Homo sapiens: one gene and its partners. The protein of the gene in region 3 interacts with the protein of the main gene of each other region in a pairwise test. Each region holds a gene or a part of one and is shown on either strand. Other genes may lie near its edges.

What was found.
Region 1: the proteins of TOP3B (region 3) and SPRED2 interact in binary tests that used the Homo sapiens proteins (3 or more experiments, as listed by UniProt).
Region 2: the proteins of TOP3B (region 3) and GPRASP3 interact in binary tests that used the Homo sapiens proteins (3 or more experiments, as listed by UniProt).

The regions. Positions count from the first base shown.
Region 1 is NC_000002.12:65,422,589-65,429,627, forward strand, and holds part of SPRED2 (sprouty-related, EVH1 domain-containing protein 2), read right to left. Parts: intron 1-7,039. UniProt on the Homo sapiens protein: Negatively regulates Ras signaling pathways and downstream activation of MAP kinases. Recruits and translocates NF1 to the cell membrane, thereby enabling NF1-dependent hydrolysis of active GTP-bound Ras to inactive GDP-bound Ras.
Region 2 is NC_000023.11:102,723,715-102,730,753, reverse strand, and holds part of GPRASP3 (G protein-coupled receptor associated sorting protein 3), read right to left. Parts: exon of another isoform or gene 5,893-7,039; intron 1-5,892. UniProt on the Homo sapiens protein: Survival and differentiation promoting protein that plays a role in the regulation of neurosynaptogenesis. Induces phosphatase PP2A activity which results in APP dephosphorylation and inhibits BACE1-mediated processing of APP.
Region 3 is NC_000022.11:21,958,754-21,965,792, forward strand, and holds part of TOP3B (DNA topoisomerase 3-beta-1), read right to left. Parts: intron 6,623-7,039; coding exon 6,532-6,622; intron 5,563-6,531; coding exon 5,408-5,562; intron 5,276-5,407; coding exon 5,170-5,275; intron 4,141-5,169; coding exon 3,994-4,140; intron 3,850-3,993; coding exon 3,676-3,849; intron 1,697-3,675; coding exon 1,568-1,696; intron 984-1,567; coding exon 834-983; intron 480-833; coding exon 379-479; intron 1-378. UniProt on the Homo sapiens protein: Releases the supercoiling and torsional tension of DNA introduced during the DNA replication and transcription by transiently cleaving and rejoining one strand of the DNA duplex.

The DNA of each region.
Region 1 (7,039 bases), on a different chromosome or scaffold from region 3:
CAATAATTTACACATAATTTTGCAACTGGGGCCTAAGTACATTCTAAATTCAAGTTATTCCGATTCACAGTATATCACACTCCAAATCAACACCTATAATCTAGTATCCCCAATTTTCCTTAGTACAAAAGACATCTTAGAATGGACGGTAAGGTCTTCAAAGGTTTTTTGTTGTTGTTTTTTATTTTAACAAACAGCAGAGTACTGTTCTGAAGTGTGCTCACACACAGATCAATGAGAAGGCAACCAATTATTAGGCCTTCAGGGCCAGAGGTGAGCTGTTGAGCCCAGGCACATCATTCTAGCAAGGCAGATTTGCTTTGCGAGTCTGAGCCTGAGAAAAAAATCAAACTTGACTTAACCTTTAAGCAAAAGGGAGAAATGTAATAACTATATTAAGACTATAGTCACACTTACGCTGCTTTAAAAGATCTATAAAAATGAGTAAAATTACTGGGATGTTGATAAATTAAACCTCTAGTCTAGCACTATGTCTGTATTCCCACTCCATCGTCCACTTTATTCCTTGGCTGGAAAAATAAAATGAAATGCCAAACATGGCATTCAAGTAGACAAAACATGTCATAAGCCAAGTGACTCCTAAGAGGATGGTCAGTCCCACCCATCCACACCAAGCCTACTGACTTTTGTTTTAGAGAGAATTTGAATGCTGCTGGTAATAAGGTATCTAGACCACATATCAGGAATGGCGTAGGGATGGCAGGGGAGCCAAGGATGCTATTACAGGTAGGTACTCTTACCCTAAGAGAACAGACAAGCTATAAAACTCAGAATCTCAAAAAGCACAGCCAACTGGGATCACTGAGTAAAGGGGCCAATGGTCAGCTGGGCATTATTGATTATCACAGTACAAAAACTACCAGGACACCATTAGAAAGCCAAAAGAAACAGTCAGTCTTAGAACATGACTTCTAAATCCTAATTATCCTCCCACAAGCTCCCTGAGGAGCCTTGAGCAAGTCATTTCAGCTCTCTAAGGTACAAAGTGAAAATCTTGTTTCCTGCCTTGTAAAGTTCATGGATCTCCTCTGCCTTGTAAATTCTGAAAAGAAAGAACACCTTATTACATGATGGGGGACAGACCTGGGGTAGATGGATGCTACTGAATCTCAATTTCTCAGGTGCTGTGCTAAAATGTTTTACCAAGGCTACCTCATTTATGCTTTTTTTTTTTTTTCTTTGAGATGGAGTTCTGCTCTTGTTGACCAGGCTGGAGTGCAATGGTGCAATCTCTGCTTAGCACGATCTCTGCTTGGCATAACCTCCGCCTCCCAGGTTCAAGCGATTCTCCTGCCCCAGCCTCCCGAGTAGCTGGGATTACAGGCATGTGCTAGCATGCTCAACTAATTTTGTATATTTAGTAGAGATGGGGTTTCTCCATCTTGGTTGGGCTGGTCTCGAACTCCTGACCTCAGGTGGTCGGCCCACCTCGGACTCCCAAAGTGATGGGATTACAGGCATGAACCACCATGCCTGGTCCATTTCTACTTTTTAACAGCCTATTAGGTATACAGCAGAATGAACCTCATTTACATTAATCCAGGGCTGGTGGCTTGGGATACTTAGCAGGGTCCCTTAGTGGCAGGGGAAGAGGTACGGTCTCACTCCAAAGTCCATGATTCTTCCACTACCATCATGGCAGCCTCTCCTTTAGTAGTTTTGAAAAAGCAACTCAAAGTCTTTTTTGGATATAGGTATCCAAAAAAGATAATTGTTAAATTGTGAAAAATTGTTAAATTTTTATACACGGTACAATTATTTTTTCAATTAATGAATAGTTACTTCAACCAATTGATAACTGTTTACAGAAAGCCTACTATGTGCTCAGTGTTCTGCCAGGCCATGGGTATGAGGGTTAATAAATTATTCTCAAAGGGCATGGTGGTGTACACCTGTGGTCGCAGCTACTTGGGAGGCTGAGATGGGAGCACTGCTTGAGCCCAGGAGTTCAAGGCTCCAGTAAGCCATGATTGCACCCCTGCACTCCAGCCTGGGCAACAGAGCAAGACCCCATCTCTAAAAAAAAAGTAATAAAAATAAAAGATAAAGCTATTCCCATGCCAGGTGCAGGTGGCTCATGCCTATAATCCCAGCACTCTGGAAGGTCGAGACAGGAGGACTGCTTAAGGCTAGGAGCTGAAGGCCATCCTGGGCAACGTTAAGAAGACCTCACCTCTACTAAAAATTTAAAAATTAGCCAGGTGTGGTGGCGCACACCTACAATCCCAGCTACTCAGGAGGCCAAGGCAGAAGGATCACTTGGAATACTCCAGCCTGGACAACAGATCAAGAGTCTGTTTCAAAAACAAACAAACAAACAAACAAACCTATTCCCACACCTAGAAAGACAGATGGGCCAAGCTTCTCTGTGCATTCTCAGTTAGTATGGATGCAAATACAAAATAAACAGTGCGTATCTGAAAAGTCAGTACTGGAGGCCAGAGCCAAAGCAAAGCAGTAAGAAAAAGAAACAAGAGGAATAAATAATGAAAATGAAAAGACAAAGATGTCATTACCAGATGAACAAATGAAAGTCAATTAAAAACTTAACTGATAATTAAGTTTTAAGCATTTATAAATGGACCACAGGAAATATATCAAAGAATAAAAACAACCAGATCTGAAAAATCGTTATTTCAGGACACAGAGGAGCCAAAACCATACATTTTAGAAGCTCCCAATATTTGTTCTAATCTCTTCAATCACAAGTGTTAAATGCTAAGGGTGAAGTCAAAATCTGTTTCTTTACCTTTACCCTCTAAGTGCAAGTAAACACAGAAAGTTTGTTTTTAAATAAATATTCAACTACCCTTTGAGAGTAGCAGGAAGAACATAAGCACAATTTGATAATACGTGTGCAATATGCCACATGTGAACATAATGTTGATAAAGGTTACATGAGAAAGGGAAATGGGTAGTTATGAAACAATTGTTACTTAATTTAGCAAACTCCCATGATCCTGGCCTGACTTTCTTTCCATGACATGGGACATATGTCAAGATGTAACAATCCTTCATGTCTATCCAGGGAAAGCATATAAAAAATATATTTTGTTCCACGGGGCACTGGAGCATCAATACAAAATATTTCTTCTACTTCAAAGTCACTAAGAGCCCTAGAAAATGCCTTAAAAGCACCATCACAATGTTCTAGATTTAAATAGTAATTTTTAAATATTTCTAAGAATAAGTTATCAAGTTTATTGAGATGACGGGGTCTTTTTAAAAAACTCGGCCTAATTTACCTTAGTAAAAACAAGCCCAAACAAATAATCACATACACCAAAACTTTCTGGTCTGCCTCTATTATCACTTGTTCAATTTCTGAAAATTTTGCTGTTAGACTGTATTTGTGTTCAGCCGGCAATACAAGAATGATGCCAATATTGGAGTTCATCAGCACAGCTGTATCCACCCTCAAGTGTTAAGACTCCAGCAGAACCCTGCAGCTATTGAAAATTGTTAATACTGTGATTTCTGCAGAGATTCTCCTACAGAGGCATAGAAACAGGCCCTGTCTTATTGTGGTCAAGATTTTTTACTTGTCAGTTCTCGCAACAATGAATGGAATAAAAATGGGTTTTGAGTTACCAATGACAGATCACTACCACCAGATAGTTCTGCATGGAATTTCCACAAAATACCAGAGGCTCAATGTGAACATGGTTGAGTTTCTCAGGAGGCTTATATATATATATACCCTAAGTTAACCAAATACAACAATTGTAATTATTGCATTAGTCAGTAGGGATGAAACAGCACTTTAAAATAATTAAATCCATTATTTTATTCAATAGACATTAAGCAACCACAATGTGCCCAATGGTGTTGGGCCAACAACTAGAAAACTAGGCATTTGAGAAGTAACCTTGAATCCAAAAAACTCAAATTCGGATGCAGAATCTAGCTGGGTATAAGCCCAACTTGAAATAATAATTGCCATGTAATGTAGGGAAAAAAATAATACACACAGACATTGATTTTGACTTGCATTTTGACTTTGACTTGATTTTGACTGGGAGGAGGGGGTTATGGTGGGAAAGTCAAAAAGGACCACCCAAACGCAATGGCTCAGAGATGGCTGGGGGCATGAGCAGAATGTCACCTACTGGAGAAGTGAAGGAAGAAAGAAGAGAATTTCAGAATAAAAGCAAGAGTAAGCAAATTGCTAAGGCAAAACAGTTTTGGGTATTGCTACTGATCCACTTTGTATATATTGTACTGGATAAAAGGACAGGAAAGCAGAGGGGACCAGCTTTAGTTAGAAAGGAGGTTGCATTTGCTAATATTCCCATGGAAACAAACCCAGACCACAACCAGCTGATGGAGCTTAGTCCACTCCAGGTCTACCACCTCACTAGCTGTTCAGCCTTGCACTAGGCACTTAAGTTTATACTATGACAGGTCCTAGCTTACAAGCTCCTTAAGGTCTTTTCAGGTTTTTTTTGTTTTTTCTTACTTTTAAGATTTTTTTTTCCTGGAGACAGGGTGTCACTCTGTCGCCCAGGCTAGAGTGCAGTGGTACGATCACAGCTCATTGCAGCCTCGACCTCCTGGCCTGAAGCCATCCTCTCCCCTCAGCCTCCTGAGTAGCTGGGACTACAGGTGTGCGCTACCACACGCGGCTAATTTTTATTTTTTATTTTTTTGGTAGAGACAGGGTCTCACTGTGTTGCCCAGGCTGGTTTTCCTGGCCTCAAGCTATCATCCTCCAGGCCTGGGTCTCCAGTAGTGTGGGGATTTTCTGAGGAATAAATCAAGATTCTAATTCTGCACAGTCAACTCCATATTTTTAACATTTAAGGGTTCTACTCATGTATAGTAGAACCATACCCCCTGGTAGAAACATACCTCCCTTTTTAAGGCAAACACAAAGAAAATGGATCAATACTCACTGTATCGGTTTAATTTCCACAACTGTTATTTCAGTTAACATAGATCTAACATTCCAATAATAACCAACTCTGAATTTGCACTACTCCCATTATCTTTGAGGTGTATCACAGAATTCTCAAGCCCAAATTTATTTAAATCCATTTTAATTCAGTATGCCCCTCATGCTTCACAGCATTTTCTGGGAAGATAAGTGAAGTGAGAAAAATGATGGCAATGACAGATTGTCACCAGTTCAGAAGAATAATGAACAAGCATGATTGGCAGAAAGGCTGCGAGCTCTGAGTCAGAACGACTGAGGCTGGACCACCCCAATGGTTCATAGTGGTTAGTTAAGAGCACAGAGACCTTCCTGAACCAGGCTACTGGAGTGCTCCATTCCCAGCTCCTTCAGTTACTCACAGGATGACCTTGAGGAAAGGACTTCACCTCTCTGTGCCTCACTTCTCCCTATTATAATAGGGATAATAATACCAACTACCTCGCAGGATTTTTAAGAAGACTAAATGAATAAAGTGCTTTAAAAAAATGTTTGCTGTCTCGGGCAACTAACTTGACCTTGGCTTTCTCATCAGTTAAATGGGGGTAATACCTTCTTCACAGGGTTATCTGAAAATGAAGCTCAGCCTGAAAGAAATCTATCTCAGTGCCCTGCAAAGAGCCACATAGGGCACCTGTTTTATGCCTAGCCCTGTACTATAAGCTTTACGTAGGCTGTCTCATTTAATTCTCACAGCAGCTCCACAAAATAGGTAGTGTCTATTCCCATTTTGTCCACTCCATATAAAACTGACATGACATATGAAAGTAAACTGCCTTAGATCATAAAGTGAGCAAATGGCTAAGCCTTAAGCCTTAAATACACGTTACAAACGCATTTAACTCGGGGTCTTCGATTGGTCTCTGGCTGAATAACCAGTTATAAAAGACATTTTTGCAGACAATTCAGGCAGAGTGTTAAAGACACCAGGGAATTATTAATTTTGTAAAATGTGATAATAGTATTGTGGTTTCACAGAACAGTATTTTTATCTCTTGAGAAGTAAGCTCAAATATTTAGGTACAACAGTCCCAATGTCTGCAATGTCTTTGAAATGGTTCAGCAAAAATACTTACACCTGTTTTATTAATGGGAAACATTTCAACGTTAGGGAAAATATGACTGAAAGGGAAGCTGCAAATCCATTCCCAGCAAGAAGTGGGTTACAGAGAAGAGTTCATGAAAGGAACAAAAGAAAAAGCTGAATGGCAGCTCGATGTCTCCAGGGTTAGAGCTTGGTTCAGTAAGGTTTATCTTGTCTGCAAATTTCCAAACCATTCATAGCCATGATCAAACGCTTTAAAGATAGTGACAAAATAGGTATGGATTTAAAAAAATTTTCCAACCCTATGCACAGAGGACGACTTACAATAGTTTGCTGATGCTCTTCGCTTCTTAAATTATATTTTTAAAAGTCTGTATAATTGTAAATTTTAACATGCATTTTTATGTGGAGGGGGGACGAAAGAGAATGGTCAGTGTATTTTCTATATGGAAGATATCTTTTGGGACCATTATCAACAAGAGCAAAGAAACTTTCCTGAATTACCATATATTAGAAGAATTTTAAATTGACATGGAAAACAACATTAGAAAACAAAACATTATTTTTTTAAATTAAGCACAATTTTACCATTTGCAAGATTCTGATTTACTGCATTCTGATGCTAAATGAAACAGATATTATCTGGACCATTCAACAAAACCTTTACTACATGTAGACTATCAAGTCTATTTTACCTAAAGTACAAATATATCTTTCCTAGGTCTCCAGTTTGATGCCACCAGTTCTCTTAAGTAGCAAACCCTGCCTGGTTCCAAAGGTATCTGAGAGACCTCAAACATAAAATCATTACAAGAAAAAAACAGATCAAATTCACCCAAAGTAGGAATCTAGCAAAAATCTAACCAAATATGGCTACCTTAATCAAACAATAATTTTAGCTCTAGACTTAAAGACAGTGGCAGCAAACAACAATAAAACAACAAAAAAGCAATCACAGCAAGCTCTGTAATTCAGAGAGAAAAACCTTACTGTCACTAACATTTAAAAGGAATTTTTCAGATGCGTCATTACACAGGTAC
Region 2 (7,039 bases), on a different chromosome or scaffold from region 3:
ACCTTATGTAAAGTGCTGATTTACTGTGAGCCAGAGGAATACAGAATTGACTATTCCTGTTTCTGCTCCTTTTCCCTTGCATCATGTGGATTACTGTACCCTCCCTCTTCCCCTCTAGCCTGCTGTTTCCATTTAAATATTGAAGCCCTCAAAATTATCTTTGGATAAAGGCACAGACCACAGACTGTTTCTGTGATTCCATGCTCTTTTCTTCTGGGAATGTCTTCACCTTGGCAAAATAAACTTCTAAATCAATTGAGACATGTCTTACATACTTTTTAGTTTACACTATTGACCTATCTTCAAGCTCAGGAGTCCCCAGCCCCTAGGCCACGGACCTGGACCCGTCCATGGCCTGTTAGGAACTGGGTCACACAGCAGGAGGTGAGTGGCGGGCTAGCCAGTAAATCTTCATCTGTATATACAGCCACTCCCCATCACTTTCATTGCCGCCTGAGCTCCGCCTTCTGGAAGATCAGCAGTGGCATTAGATTCTCATAAGAGCACAAACCGTATTGTGAACTGCACATGTGAAGGATCTAGGTTGCATGCTCCTTATGAGAATCTAATGCCTGATGATCTGTCACTGCCTCCCATCACCCCAAGATGGGACCATCTAGCTTTACAAAAACAATCTCCGGGCTCCCAGTGATTCTACATTATGGTGAATTGTATAATTATTTCATTATCTATTACAATGTAATAATAATAGAAATAAAGTACATAATACATGTAATGCACTTCAATTGTCCTGAAACCATGCCATTCGCCCCCCAGTCTATGGAAAAATTGTCTTCCACGAAATCTGCCCCTGGTGCCAAAAAAGATTGGGGACTGCTACTCAAGCTTGCTGAGTCTTTCCTCAACTGTGTCCAGTCTACTGATAATCCCATCAAAGGCATTCTTCATTTGCTGGAGTGCAGTGGCACAATTTCGGCTCACTGCAACCTCCACCTCCCGGGTTCAAGCGATTCTCCTGCCTCAGCCTCCTGAGTAGCTGGGATTACAGGCACCCGCCACCACGCCCAGCTAATTTTTGTACTTTTAGTAGAGATGGGGTTTCTCCATGTTGGCCAGGCTGATCTTGAACTCCTGACCTCAGGTGATCTACCCACCTCAGCCTCCCAAAGTGTTGGGATTACAGGCGTGAGCCACTGTGCCTGGGCTCTGTTACAGTATTTTTGATTTCTAGCATTTCCCTAAATATTCTTCTCAGGGAGAGTTTACATTTTGCAGCTCTTTTAACTGTTATTCACTGTTATCCACTATTATTATAATAAAGCCTTGTTAGCATGGTGGTGAAGTGCAGAGGAGAGGAAGTGTTCTATAATATTATGATTAAATTTCAGTCTTTTGTGGGCCTGTGTCCCTGGGCTTTGATTTTCATAAGAGTTTTATTTTAGCGCCTTTCTCTCCCTTACATGAGACTAGAAACCTAAAGGGGGCTGAAATAGGAGAAACGCCTTTCCCTCAGCTGAGATAAGGCTCTGATAAAGTCTTTTCCACCACAGAATAGGCTTTTTTTTTAAAAAATGAAGAAGGCTCTGGGTGTATTTCACAAAAGTACAGTTCCCTTCCCACTGCAGGGGCCATGAGGCCCTTCACTGCAAGAATATGGTGGGTTTCTTGGAAGTAATGCCCACAAAAGTGTGGGGACCTCCCTGACTGCAGATCCTCAGGGGTTTCTCACTCTCATATTATTCCACACTCAGTCTCCAGCAATTCATCAAAATTACATTTAAGTGCTCTTACCTATTTATGTCTCTAGCAGTTTCTGTTCTATGAAAGAAGAAATAGGCTGTGACTCTCTGGATTTGCCTTCAGAATTTGGGGTAGTCAACTGTCCTATGCCTCAGTTCTTTGAAGAATCTAAGAAATGTTGTTGATTCTGTTTGTTCAGATTTTTTTCTGGTTGTAAGTACAGGAGCAATGACTTACAAGTTCTTACATGTTGGAACTGAAACTGGAAGTCTGGCTATGGGTTTTAACAGGGAAGCTAAAGAGCAGTGAAAAATAAAAAATAAAAAATTTAAAATGGGCTGGGTGTGGTGGCTCACACCTTTAATCTCAGCACTTTGGGAGTCCAAGGTGGGAGGATCGCTTAAGTCCAGGAGCTCAAGAGCAGCCTAGGCAACATAGCAAGACCCCCTCTCTATTTAAAAAAAAAAAAAAAAAAAAAAAAAAGCAGTGCACATTGCTTTTGTCTGCTTCTTTTCTGCTGAACATCACATCTGGGAATTAGGTTGCCCTGGAAAACCCAGCTGCTCCATAAATATTAGCTCTTTTCACTCCCAGGTACAGGAAATTTATGGGGCTCCCTGAACCTGACATCTCAGCCCAAAAATTTGTAATGTGCAATGCAAATTAGACTTTTGACCTCCTGAATCAAAATTCCTGGTAATGGCCATGCACAATGGCTCATGCCTGTGATTCCAGCACTTTGGGAGGCCAAGGTGGGAGGGTCACTTGAGTGCAGGAATTCAAGACTGGCCTGGGCAATGCAGTTATACCTTGTTTCTACAAAAAATCTTTAAAAATTGAAAAATATATATATTATTGGTAATGAAGTCTGAGGAACTGTAACTTAATGCTAGGAGAGAAAAGTTGTCTATGTCACTACCACCACCACCACCATCAAGAGGCAGTGCATGATACTATTAGAATCTATAGTTTACATTAACTGCCTAATGATTGTTAAGTGCTTGCTTAGACTAGAGTAACTAGTTTCTGAGCCCTGGGAGTACATTCTAAAGGGAGTTTGTACAGAAGAGTTGGGAGTACCCAGATTTCAGAGCCAGACAGTCCAAAGTCTGAATACAGACTTTGTCACTATTTGTGTAACTTTAGCAAAGGTACTTAACGTCTTTATAACCCAGTTTCTTCATCCTTAAAAGGGAGCTGGCATTAACTACTTTACAGGATTATTGTGTATACTGAGAAAACTATTTGATATCCTGCACAACATGTGTATATCAGATCTTTCTAGTTCTTTTAAAATTTCTGATCTATTCCTATTATGGAGTGGGCTGGAGAAAGCAAGAAAGAATAGATGAGAACTACATGGTTTTTAAAGGTCATAATTGCTAAGTCAGTGTCACTGTGCTCTTTGTGCTGTAGCCTCAGTGCTTTGTATATTCTGTGTTGCTTACCATAACCCTTTACTAAAAGGATGCCATTTTTGCATAGTTGCCACTGCAGGTTACTGACTTTCTCCTCCTTTTAGTCACATGTCACAGAGAGGCTAATTCCATTTCCAAGAGTGAGTCTCTTTGGTCTACGGATAATCTATCCCCTTGGTACTCTCTTGTTTAGGAAGAGGCATTGATCAAATTCCACTCAATGTGACATTAGGGGAAGGTTACAGATGGACTTCTGAGGAAAGTGTCCTCATTCATAAGACAAAGTCATCAGAAAAGATTGTCTTTTCTTCTTCCTCAGGAAGTTGCTTACCTCCTGGAATTGTTGTAGCCATCAAGCTATCAGCCTTAGGACGGAAGTTGATATTGTGAATGGCAGAAGAAAGAGACGGAAAAAAGCTGAGTCCTTCGCTGAATTAAACAACCATCAAGGCTGCCCTACGTCAGTACTTACAATCATTGGATAATTAATTTCCTTATTAAGTTAGTTTTAGTTGAATTCCTTGTTATATGAAAATGGAACAATCCTAGATGTGCTCAGGCACAAAACAGCTCTTCAGTGAGTAAGAATTCCTGACTTGTGTCCATCAGTGAGCATCAGTGAGCACCTACATCTGCAGTAGCAGAACTCATGTTTCCCAGGAAAGAAAAGCCAGAAATTCTCAACACGTGTCCTAATGATTGCTAGAGGTCTGACAACTGTTTGGCTTCTGCTCCAGATTAAAAAGTAAAGCTTTAGGCAGAAGCCAAACTCTGACTTATCTAGGAGGTCCAGAGGTACATTAAATACTTAAGATAATAGATAAACCTAGTTTCAATTCAGAGGATCATTGTGTGAAGGTGCACCCTTGTGAAATATCCAGATTATAAAGATATCAAAGGTTACCTGCTTTCAGTTCAGGGGACTGTGCTGATATTGAGAAAGACACATTTACAGTGTCGACAGTTAGAACAATATGATTAATTTTCCCAGGTGCACTAAACAACAAAGGTATAGAAAGTCGTAGATACTTGAGATTTATCCAGAGTTGGGGTTTCTCCAGGACAGTGGAGCCAGGCACTAGAGGATGAGGTAGAAGAGTAGTAAAAATAAGTACTGTGATGGGCATTGGGTTGGGAAGGAAGGAAAGGGTGGAATAGGCTGATAAACAGGGAAAAAAGGATAAGGGACAGGAGGTCTAACAATATTCAGGTTTAATTTCTTTATGATAAATACTTTGCTACAAGCTTTGAGGAACAGAAGATCTGATTGTAAAAACAGTTACAATGATCATGGATGCTTTTATTGATAACTAGCACTGGAGGAATATAGACATAGCATAGAAGTAATGCACATCAGCTCCAGATTCAAACCACAAAGGTGGGAATGTCACCTCCTCTGCTAACCAACTCAGTGAGGTTGGCTAAGCTACTTAACCAATGTGTGCCTCAGCTTCCTCATATGTAGAATGGAAACAATAGCAGCACCTACCTCATAAGTTTGTTTTGAGGATTAACTAAGTGAATACATTTAGAGCCCTTAGTAGAGTACCCTGGCACATAGAAATCACCCAATAAATCCAATAAATCTTAATATTAACACAAATTACTATTTTAAGTAGTAAACATTCAGGCTTTGCAGTCAGACAGACTGGGGTTTGAATCACACTTCCAGAGTCCAAGCTTCTTTCTCTATGCTTCCTGTCCCTCAACACTAGTTCTATGTTATTCATTAAAAAATAAAAATAAAAAAATAAAAAGACTCTGATGCATGGTATAAAGAAACAAGTGGGATGGGCGCAGTGGCTCACGCCTGTAATCCCAGCACTTTGGGTGGCCGAGGCGGGTGGATCACCTGAGGTCAGGAGTTCAAGAGCAGCCTGGCCAACATGGCAAAACCCTGTCTCCACTAAAAATACAAAAATTAGCCGGGCATAAATTAATGGTGCAAAAATCAGTGGTGTGTGCCTGTAATCCCAGCTACTAGCGGGGCTGAGGCAGGAGGATCGCTTGAACTTGGGAGACAGAAGTTGCAGTGAGCTGAGATCGTGCCACTGCACTCCAGCCTGGGTGACGAAGTGAGACTCCGTCTCAAAAAAAAAAAAAAAAAGAAACAAGTGGCCAAGTGGCAAATAAAATATTGTGTAAGTACAAAGAATGGAGGAATTACTTCCTACCAAGGGGCAAGGGATAAGGGCGAGGAGGTATCAGACTTCAAAAAGGCCCTGGCATTTGAACTGAGCCCAAATGATGTTTCCCATAGACAGAAAAAGGGTAAGAACATTGAAGATTGAAGGGACAGCATGTGGGAAAGGCATAAAAGTAGTAAAGCACACAATACAGTTGGGAAAACAACAGATTTTCCAGTGGGGCTTGACTGCAGGCAAAGTGGGGCAAGGCCTGGAATAGTGTGAGGCACTTGAGAACAAGAGCTTCTTTCTTCATTTCATTCTAGTCCTGGCCTTGACTTGGAAGAATGTTATGAGAGATGGAGATAGAAAGGCAGACTTGTATTAAAGGGTGCAAGGTTGTGAAAGCCTTGATAGAAAATCTGGTGGTATTTTATAGATGAGATCCCATTGAAGGTTGCTCTTTTGAAATTGGGGGCAGAGTTGAGAATTAGTGGCTGCTAAAAGTCCAGACTAGACAGATGAAAAATTCACTCTGATACTATCCCCACACAACAACATTTTAGGCCAAGTGACATCTGAAGTAGCCTCTATTATATAAAGTAGCCCATAATATTTATCAAAAAAGGGAGAAGGAACAAGAGGACTGAGTGAATGATGAAGTTTTTATTTCAACTACACCCCAGAAAAATAATTGAGGAAGGATTCTACCCGCTACAAGTCAGAACAAAGGCAATCATCATTTTGCTTGGATACACACACACACACACACACACACACACACACACACCAGTCACCCTGCTCTTCGGCTGAGATTAAAAAATTCTACAGGCATAAACTGTTTAAGTATCTGCTTTGGAGTACATTTGGGACTTAGAAGTATTTAATCAGGCCACAATTTGAAGTTTTCTAAATATAAATGCAATACCCACAACAGGAATTCTAGGCTAAGGGAGCTGTGATAAGAAAAAAAATGATGACAGGATAGATGGATAGATAGATTAGATAGATAGACACATAGATAGATATAGATAAATAGATACATAGATAATTTTAAAAATTATCTAAATTACAGGTACATGCCACAAAAACAGACTGCTTTTTTCACCCATAATACACTGTTGGGTCTGAATCCTTCATTTTAACTTGTTGATGTAGAATACACAGCAAAGGTAAGCTTTATGTATATTAATCTAGGTGTGGCTGCTAAAACTAGGGAAAATTACACTATTGTTCTGATATCAAATATTTGAAACCAACTACTTGGAGTTAGCATTGGACTCCACAGGTTTAAGGGCACAATCACCAACAATACTGCCCCCACTTTAGATCAGATACCAGCCCCAATTCTCAGGAAGCCACCCATGCTTCTGACTGACCACTTATAAATTCAGGAGTTCCTATGACATTATGAGGTTTCATAATTAACTGAAACAACTCGTAGAACTCAAGAAAAGTGCTATTCTTATTATTACAGTTTCATTTAAGGATATACACAGGACAAGGTCTGAAAGCATTCTGGACACAAAGCTTCCATACCCTCTCCTTATGGAGTCAGGGTACACCACTCTCCCTAGAGAACAATATGTTCACCAACCAAGAAGCTCCACTTATCCCTGAAGTTCAAAGTTTTCACTGGGGTTTTATTACATAGGCAAGATTGATTAAACCATTGGTTGTGATTGAACTTAATACCTAGCCCCACTACCTTCCCTGAAGGTTGAGCTGGCCCAAAGTTCCAACCCTTTAATCACATGGTTGGTCCTTCTGGTGACCAGTCCCCATCCTGAAGCT
Region 3 (7,039 bases):
CCCACTCCTCTCATAATACAAAGTATGTAATCTGTCATGCAGAACCTGTGACACACTGCCAGGCAAGGAGCATGAGTCTCTGGCTCTTGCTCCACGCGTGCAGAAAAGGCAGTTCTAAAATCTCTGTGTGTACATTAATGCCCATGATGGCAAGTGGCATGGTGTTAGGGAAAAATGCACCATGTGTGTTTGCGTGGCCTAATGGCTGTGTATTCTAGGGGACGTGGGGACACTGGGTATTTTTTGGCAAGGCCTCTTTATGTTCCATCATTCTTTTGTGACAACCAGGACAAAGAACATGATTCCTGCTGATCAACGATAAAGCTGAGGCCTACAGGGGTGAGGCAGCTTGCCTGAGCTAGTGTTCCCTGCACCTACCTGGATGTACTTCATGAAGCGGTGGCACTTCCCACAGCGTGAGAGGGGCTTGCCTGTGGCCGCCAGGGGCGAGAAAGACACCTCCATCAACTCATCCATGCCTGCGGGCAAGCAGAGTGCAGGAGTCATCTCCCTCCCAGTCCCCAGCAAAAGGCTCCGCAACACGTGGTCAAGGGTCTGAGTGTGAAAGGGTCCCTATAGGCGGTGGTTTCTACTGTCCTGGCAGCACGGCAGGGCAGCAGCCCTGTGCGTCAGAGGCACGTGTTCCTGGCCATGTGTGGTGTTAATGCACCTGCTCTTTCAACCCAGCCAGGAGGTGTCACTGACCTGGCCTACGGAGGCCTGAAGCCCAGATCTGGGAGCTGGTCCCACGTGGGGACCTGGGTCCCCAGGTACTGGCCTTGCTGACAGAGAGACACCCCTCTGGTGAGGGGCAGGCCAGAGGCAGACTCTACCAGCAATGGAGTCGACAAAGTAGTGGAACTTCCTCTTGAACACGTCCAGGGTGTGGCCCAGGACCTGGCGGTAGTCGGCCTTGCCCTGGGCGATCAGGTTCAGCTGCTTCTCCACTGCACTGCGGATGGTGGGGAGCACCAGCTCTGCATCTGCAAGTGGGCAGGGGGCAGATATTGCCCTGAGCACTCGCACCCAGGGCCATGCCACCCCTTCCCAGGCAGGGATACTGCCCTGTTCACCCCTCCCGCTCTGGCCCGTCCTCCTGGCCTCTGCCCTACCCACCAGTCCACAGCCTCAGATGGTACCAGGCTGGCTCTTATGACCCCAGACCTTTCCTGATTTCCCACCTGGAAATGTCAGGCAGAGTGGCCAGGGATGTCCTGTGGCTAGAACCACATCACACATGAGCTCCAGGCCGCCCTTGGGCCAGTTTTGTGCTCCTCCCTCTCCCCTTGGCCCCTGGGGAACCTCCAGGGAACAGGGCTGAGGCAACTTCGCCTCCCTTTTTGGTTCCCTCACACATCTGTTCAGCCTTCAAACACACTGAGCTCCTGCTCTGGGCAGGTCCTGGGGGTCCTGGGGCAGCACCCCTTCAGCGGGTGTTGAGGGAGTGTGTGTGGGGCTGGGGGATCACTGTAGGGCAGGGGCCTGTCTGGAGCGGGCAGCAGAGCCAACATCCAGGGAGAAGCCAGGGAGCCTCGGTGGGCCCTGGGGGCAGGACTGAGGAACTCACCAATCTTATAGTAGCCGTGCACCAGGACGATGCCGAGGTTGGTGGGCTTGAGCCGGCGCCCGCTCTCCACCGTGACATAGTTGCGCTGGCAGATGTTGTTGATATGCACAGGGATGCTGGCATCCGTGCCTGCAATGTACAAGGCCCCAGGGTTCCTGGCCTGCCTTGGACATGCCCCACTGAACCATGTGCTGTATCACCTGTCACGGGGCCCCTGGTGCTCAGGCCCTCTCACTGCTCCCGGTCACAGGAGGGAGGGCTGTGCCCTGAGCTCCCCCTGCACTGTGCTGGGCACCAACTGCATGCATTTCATGTTCTGCCTTGAGAACACAAGGGCAGCCCTCCCTGTACAGGGCGCCTACTCCTGCTTTATGGCAGAGACAACAGGCTCGGAGGTTAAGGAACTCTCCAAGGTCACAGTGCTTATTCTGCGCCTGGAAAATGTGACTTCTATGGCTTCTCCTGCCTGGGTCCTGTGGCACCCACCTGCTCCCGGAGCCAGAGCCCCACTCCACCAGAACACGGAGGTGCTTACAAGCTCACTGCAGAGCTGCCCTCCCCTAAACCTGGACAATTCTGTCCACTTCCTGTCTCCCACCTCCTCCCTCTCTGCAAGGCCCGTCACGATCCCCAGGGGAGGCTCCCAGTCCCCAGGATTCCACTCTCCCACCCAGAGGAAGTTTCCTGGCAGAGGGGCGCAGCGGAGGCTGAGGCGTTTTGACTATGGCGGGTGCCAGTCAGAGGGGCAGAAAGGAGGCTGGGGCTCCCTGCATGCTCACCAGCATGGACAGGTGACACACACCTTCCCAAAGTAGCTCGGAGAGAATCTCACATGGGAAGAAACTGGCCTCTGGGGGCTAAGGAGCCTGCCGAGGGCCCATGGCTCTTGGCACGAGGCCAGCTCTGCACCCGGTGTGGCAGGCTGTGGGTGGCGTGTGCCACTACCACCCCGAGTCTGCCGGGCGCCATGACGCGTGGTGTGGGCTCCTCTGTGGCGGCTCTGGTCAGGCCCTTTTGACACACTCCTGGGGGCTCAGTCACAGGGCCACCCTGACCACTCTCCTGTTCAGAAGGTAACACCAGAGCCCTCTTCACTGTCACAAACTTGTATTGGTGATTGGGTCTGGCTCACTGGCTAGCATAGGGCTGCCAGGAGCCAGTGTCCCATCAATGCGAGAGGGCAGAGGACACGGGGGAGCAGAGCCCACACTCCACAGTGGGCTGAGGGCTATTTCAGGACCCTGGCAGGTGCCCTGGACCCCTGAGAGGAGCAAGCCCAGAGCTCTGCTCTCCTGCCAAGATCGCCATGGTCACCAGGACCCCAGCCTGGGAAGAGACACTCCCTGAGAGTCCACCTATATGACCACTGCTGGAGCAGAGCCTGGACACAGTGGCTGTGACATCCCACAGGTCTCCAGAGCCTGTCAGCCAGGGGTAGTGCCCCAGGGAACAGGCAGTGCCCAGCGGCGCGAGTGCCACCTGGGGAGAAGGCTCCGGCAGTGAGGCTGGCCCCCAACATGTGAGACATCTCACAGCTCCAGGCCTGGGGACTTGTGAGGCCACCACTCCTGTGAGGAGTGTGCACTGGTGACTACACTTTTGCTTTGATAAACTCCCTGGGCTGCCCATTTTTGCGTGGAAACTTCCTGGTCACCCTTTGGGGAGCCCTGTGCCTGGGACAGGCATTTCTGTTCTCTCCCAGGGAAGCAGCTCCTGTGAGATCTCATTTCCCTGTCACCTGATTTCAGGACAGCCCAGGCTGGCTGTGTGGACTCAGGGGACTGCCAATATGATTTCTATGAGTCACCTGGCATCTGGGCCAATCTTCAGCCTTGTGGGCGTTAGTCGGTGTGTGCACACCCCACAGTGCACGAGGGCACATCTGGGCCTTCACAGGGAAGGCCAGGTCCTGAATGGAGGCCTCAGGAGGGGATGCCCGCTGTGGACCTGCCTGGCTGGCCACACACTGGGTCACCAGTTTCCAGATACCAGCCCATGGAGGGGTGCTGGGCTGGGCACACAGGGCTGGCGGGGCAGCTTTGTGAGTAGACTCGAAGCCTGAGTACTGGAGACGGAGCCGGCTCTGGGGCCTGGGCAGGCGCACCCACCGATGCCATGCTTCTCCATGAGCGTGATGAGCTCGGCCTCCGTCAGGTAGTCGGGTGGGTTCGTCTGCTTCTCCAGCATCTTCACCTCGCCCACAGGGAAGGCATCACCCCGCTGGCAAGTGGGCAGGCTCTCCTCCAGGGGCACGCTCTGCCAGGGCATGACCTCCGTGAAGCCTGGAGAGATATGCGCCGCCACTCAGGGTCCCCAGCCTGGGTGGCCGGGGCCTCAGACCCTGGGCCTCCCATCCCCAGACACGATGTAGAATGTTTGTCTGCCCATGAAGGCACAGAGGAGGAAGGCTGGGCCCGTGGTGTGACCTGGTGAGAGGACGGTCTTCCCGGAGCAGGTGAAGAGCTCGGGCCCAATTCTGAAGGAGATGGTGCTCTGCAGGTACTTGCAGTCATGGCTGACCGTGGCGATGAAGTGTCTGGTGATGTACTCATAGAGCCGCCACGCGTCACCCCCTGCAACAGGCCAGGGCTAGTCAGTTGGGAGCCAGCTGGGGGCTCTGGCCGTGAGGAGCCCCCAGTACTCTCGCTCGAGCAGCAAGCTCCTGCTTACAGAGCCGCTGTGCAGGACACACTGCAAATCCTGGGGAAGGAGGAAAGAAAATGTGCAGGAAGGCCGGGCGTGGTGGCTCATGCCTGTAATCCTAGCACTCTGGGAGGCTAAGGTGGATGGATCACTTGAGGTCAGGAGTTTGAGACCAGCCTGGCCAACATGGTGAAACCCCGTCTCTACTAAAAATACAAAGAAATTAGCTGGGTGTGGTGGTGGGAGCCTGTAATCCCAGCTACTCGGGGGGCTGAGGCAGGGTGAACTGCTTGAACCTGGGAGGCAGAGGTTGCAGTGAGCCGAGATCGGGCCACTGCACTCCAGCCTGGGTGACAGAACAAGACTCTGTCTCAAAAAAAGAAAAAAAAAAAGCAAATGCGGAGGAAGGGAACACAAGCCTCCATGCCTCAGTGGTTTCTTTCTGGCTGCGGCTCCCACCATCCTGCACAACCTCCTGTCCCTGCTTCTGGCGGGACTGCTCTTCAGGCATTGGCCTGTCTTTCCATTGTCTCGTGACATGACACCATTGCTTCAAACTCAGACTGTCCACAGGTGGCTCCTGTCTCTACCTGCACTGCTCTCCCTTCCTCATTTGCCTTCTCCTGGCACTCGGACCACTGGTACCACCTTAGGCCAGCTGGGAGGTAGGAGGTGTGCTGCCCCCTCCCCCACACCGCCACTCTCTACCCTGGTTTCATTCATGTCCCCTGTGGCGTCTGCCCCCTTGCCTCCCTGCAACAGCACCTGCTGCTACCTCTTCACTCCTGTCCTGGTCCCATAGCAATGGAGCTCATCTTCCAGGTGGCCCCCCATCCCCACAGCCAGGGCAGGCAGAGGCTGAAGGAGCCCCCACATTGCCAACAGGGCCTGCAACCTTCACTGTCGCAGCTCGCCCTTCCCTCCCTGGAAGCACACCGGGTATGGGATGAGAGCGGTACCTAATTCGGCCTCTGTGGCAGACTTCATGGGGGTGATGGGGGGATGGTCGCCGGCGTCATGGCCTTTCCGCGGGCGGTTGATACCTTCTGCTAACAACCGCTTCACCTGAGGGAGAGAAGACAGAGCAGAGTCTGTGGCTGGGCTCGGCTGCCTGCCTGGGTTTGGCTGACGTACCAGACCTGGTCCCAAGGCCTCAGTGACACACACACATGCTGAGGCCGGCCCGGCTCCACTCACCGTGTCGGCCCAGTAGGGGTGGTTGGCCTGCTGCCGCAGAGAGCCCTTCAGGTCAAAGTTCTCAGGGTAGTGGGTGGTCTCTGTCCGTGGGTAGCTGATGTAGCCTTGCGTGTAGAGCCGCTCAGCCGTCTGCATGGCGTGCTGCGGCCCCATGCCTGCGAGAGACAGGAGGTTCTCAGAGGGCCAGGTACGTGGGGATGGCCAGCTGCCTGCCCTGGCCTATGCACTCAGGCTCCCCCATTGTGGCCGGCCCCTCCTGGAGGGTGACGGTGGCTCTGAGCAGGCACAGCTGGAGTGCAAAGCTGCTGGCCGGGTGGGCACCTATGCCACACAGTCTTGTATGAGGCTGAATCCCGCACCCGTAAGGCTGAATCCTACACCCAGGATGGGCCTGATGGGAAACGCCACTCACTCTACCCCACGGTGCATCCTCATGGGGCTCATGGCCATGGGGATGACACATGGCCTTCAGAGCACCACTCCCCATGCATTGTCCATGGAGCCATAACCATACCTCGGGGTTGGCTGACGACAGAGTTAGCACGCAGCCCCATTTTGAGCCCTTGGGTGTTTCTGTCCTCACAGCACTTTGGGGCCACTCAGGGGGGCTCGTCCTGCTACTCCCTGACCAGCAGAGGCAGGCGCTTAGCTAGCAACCACTCCCAGCATTGCTGCCCTCTGAGGACGCTGGAGCCACCACTCAGTGTCCACTGAGAGGACACTGCCCATAGTTCCCTGCGGGGGTGGGGGGCACCAATGCCTAGGGGCTGACAGCTGCCAGAGACCACCAGCTTTCCAGCCCAACCCCCTCCTCGTTACTAAGGAGAAAAGACTGAGGAGATGAGGCTGAGGGGCGACGTTCACACTGGTTCCCTGAAGGTGACATCTGGCTGGGGCCTCTCCCCTCACCAGGGATAGCTGCTCAGGGACTCTAACATCAGGAGGTCCCCTCAGGTGGTGACCAACTTTACCACCTTTACAACCTAAGGATAAGTGAAATCCTCCTGAGGCTCAGATCCCCTTGAAGCCTTGGGCACCATCCTGCAACCCTGGGCACTCGCTGCTCCAGGCTGAACCTGCCTCAGGAAGCCTTCTGGTGACTTGAGAGAAATGTCCCTACATACCCAGAGAAGAGCTGGCCACACGCAGCATCTCCACAGTGTTCAGGGCCAGGGGCCTCTGCTTGGCCTTTTCTTTCCTGCTTGTGGCCTCCACCTGGAAGACAGGACAGTCAATGATTTGGGGAAGGAGGAAGACACCACCATAGAGGGAATCAAGATGTGTGGACGAAGGGTCTGGTTTCATTCATCTGGTCTCCCTGTTTCTCCAATTCATTCTTCCCAACAGTCTAAAGACTTGATTGAATATTTATTCAGGACCAGGAAAGGAAAAAGAATGAAAATTCTTTTTTAAAAAAAAATTTTGGCTGGGTGTGGTGGCTCACGCCTGTAATCCCAGTACTTTGGGAGGCTGAGGCGGGTGGATCACCTGAGGTCAGGAGTTCGAGACCAGCTTGACCAAGATGGTGAAACCCCGTCTCTACTAAAAATACAAACATTAGCTGGGCATGGTGGAACGTGCCTGTAATCCAAGCTACTCGTGACGCTGAGGCAGAATTGCTTGAACCTGGGA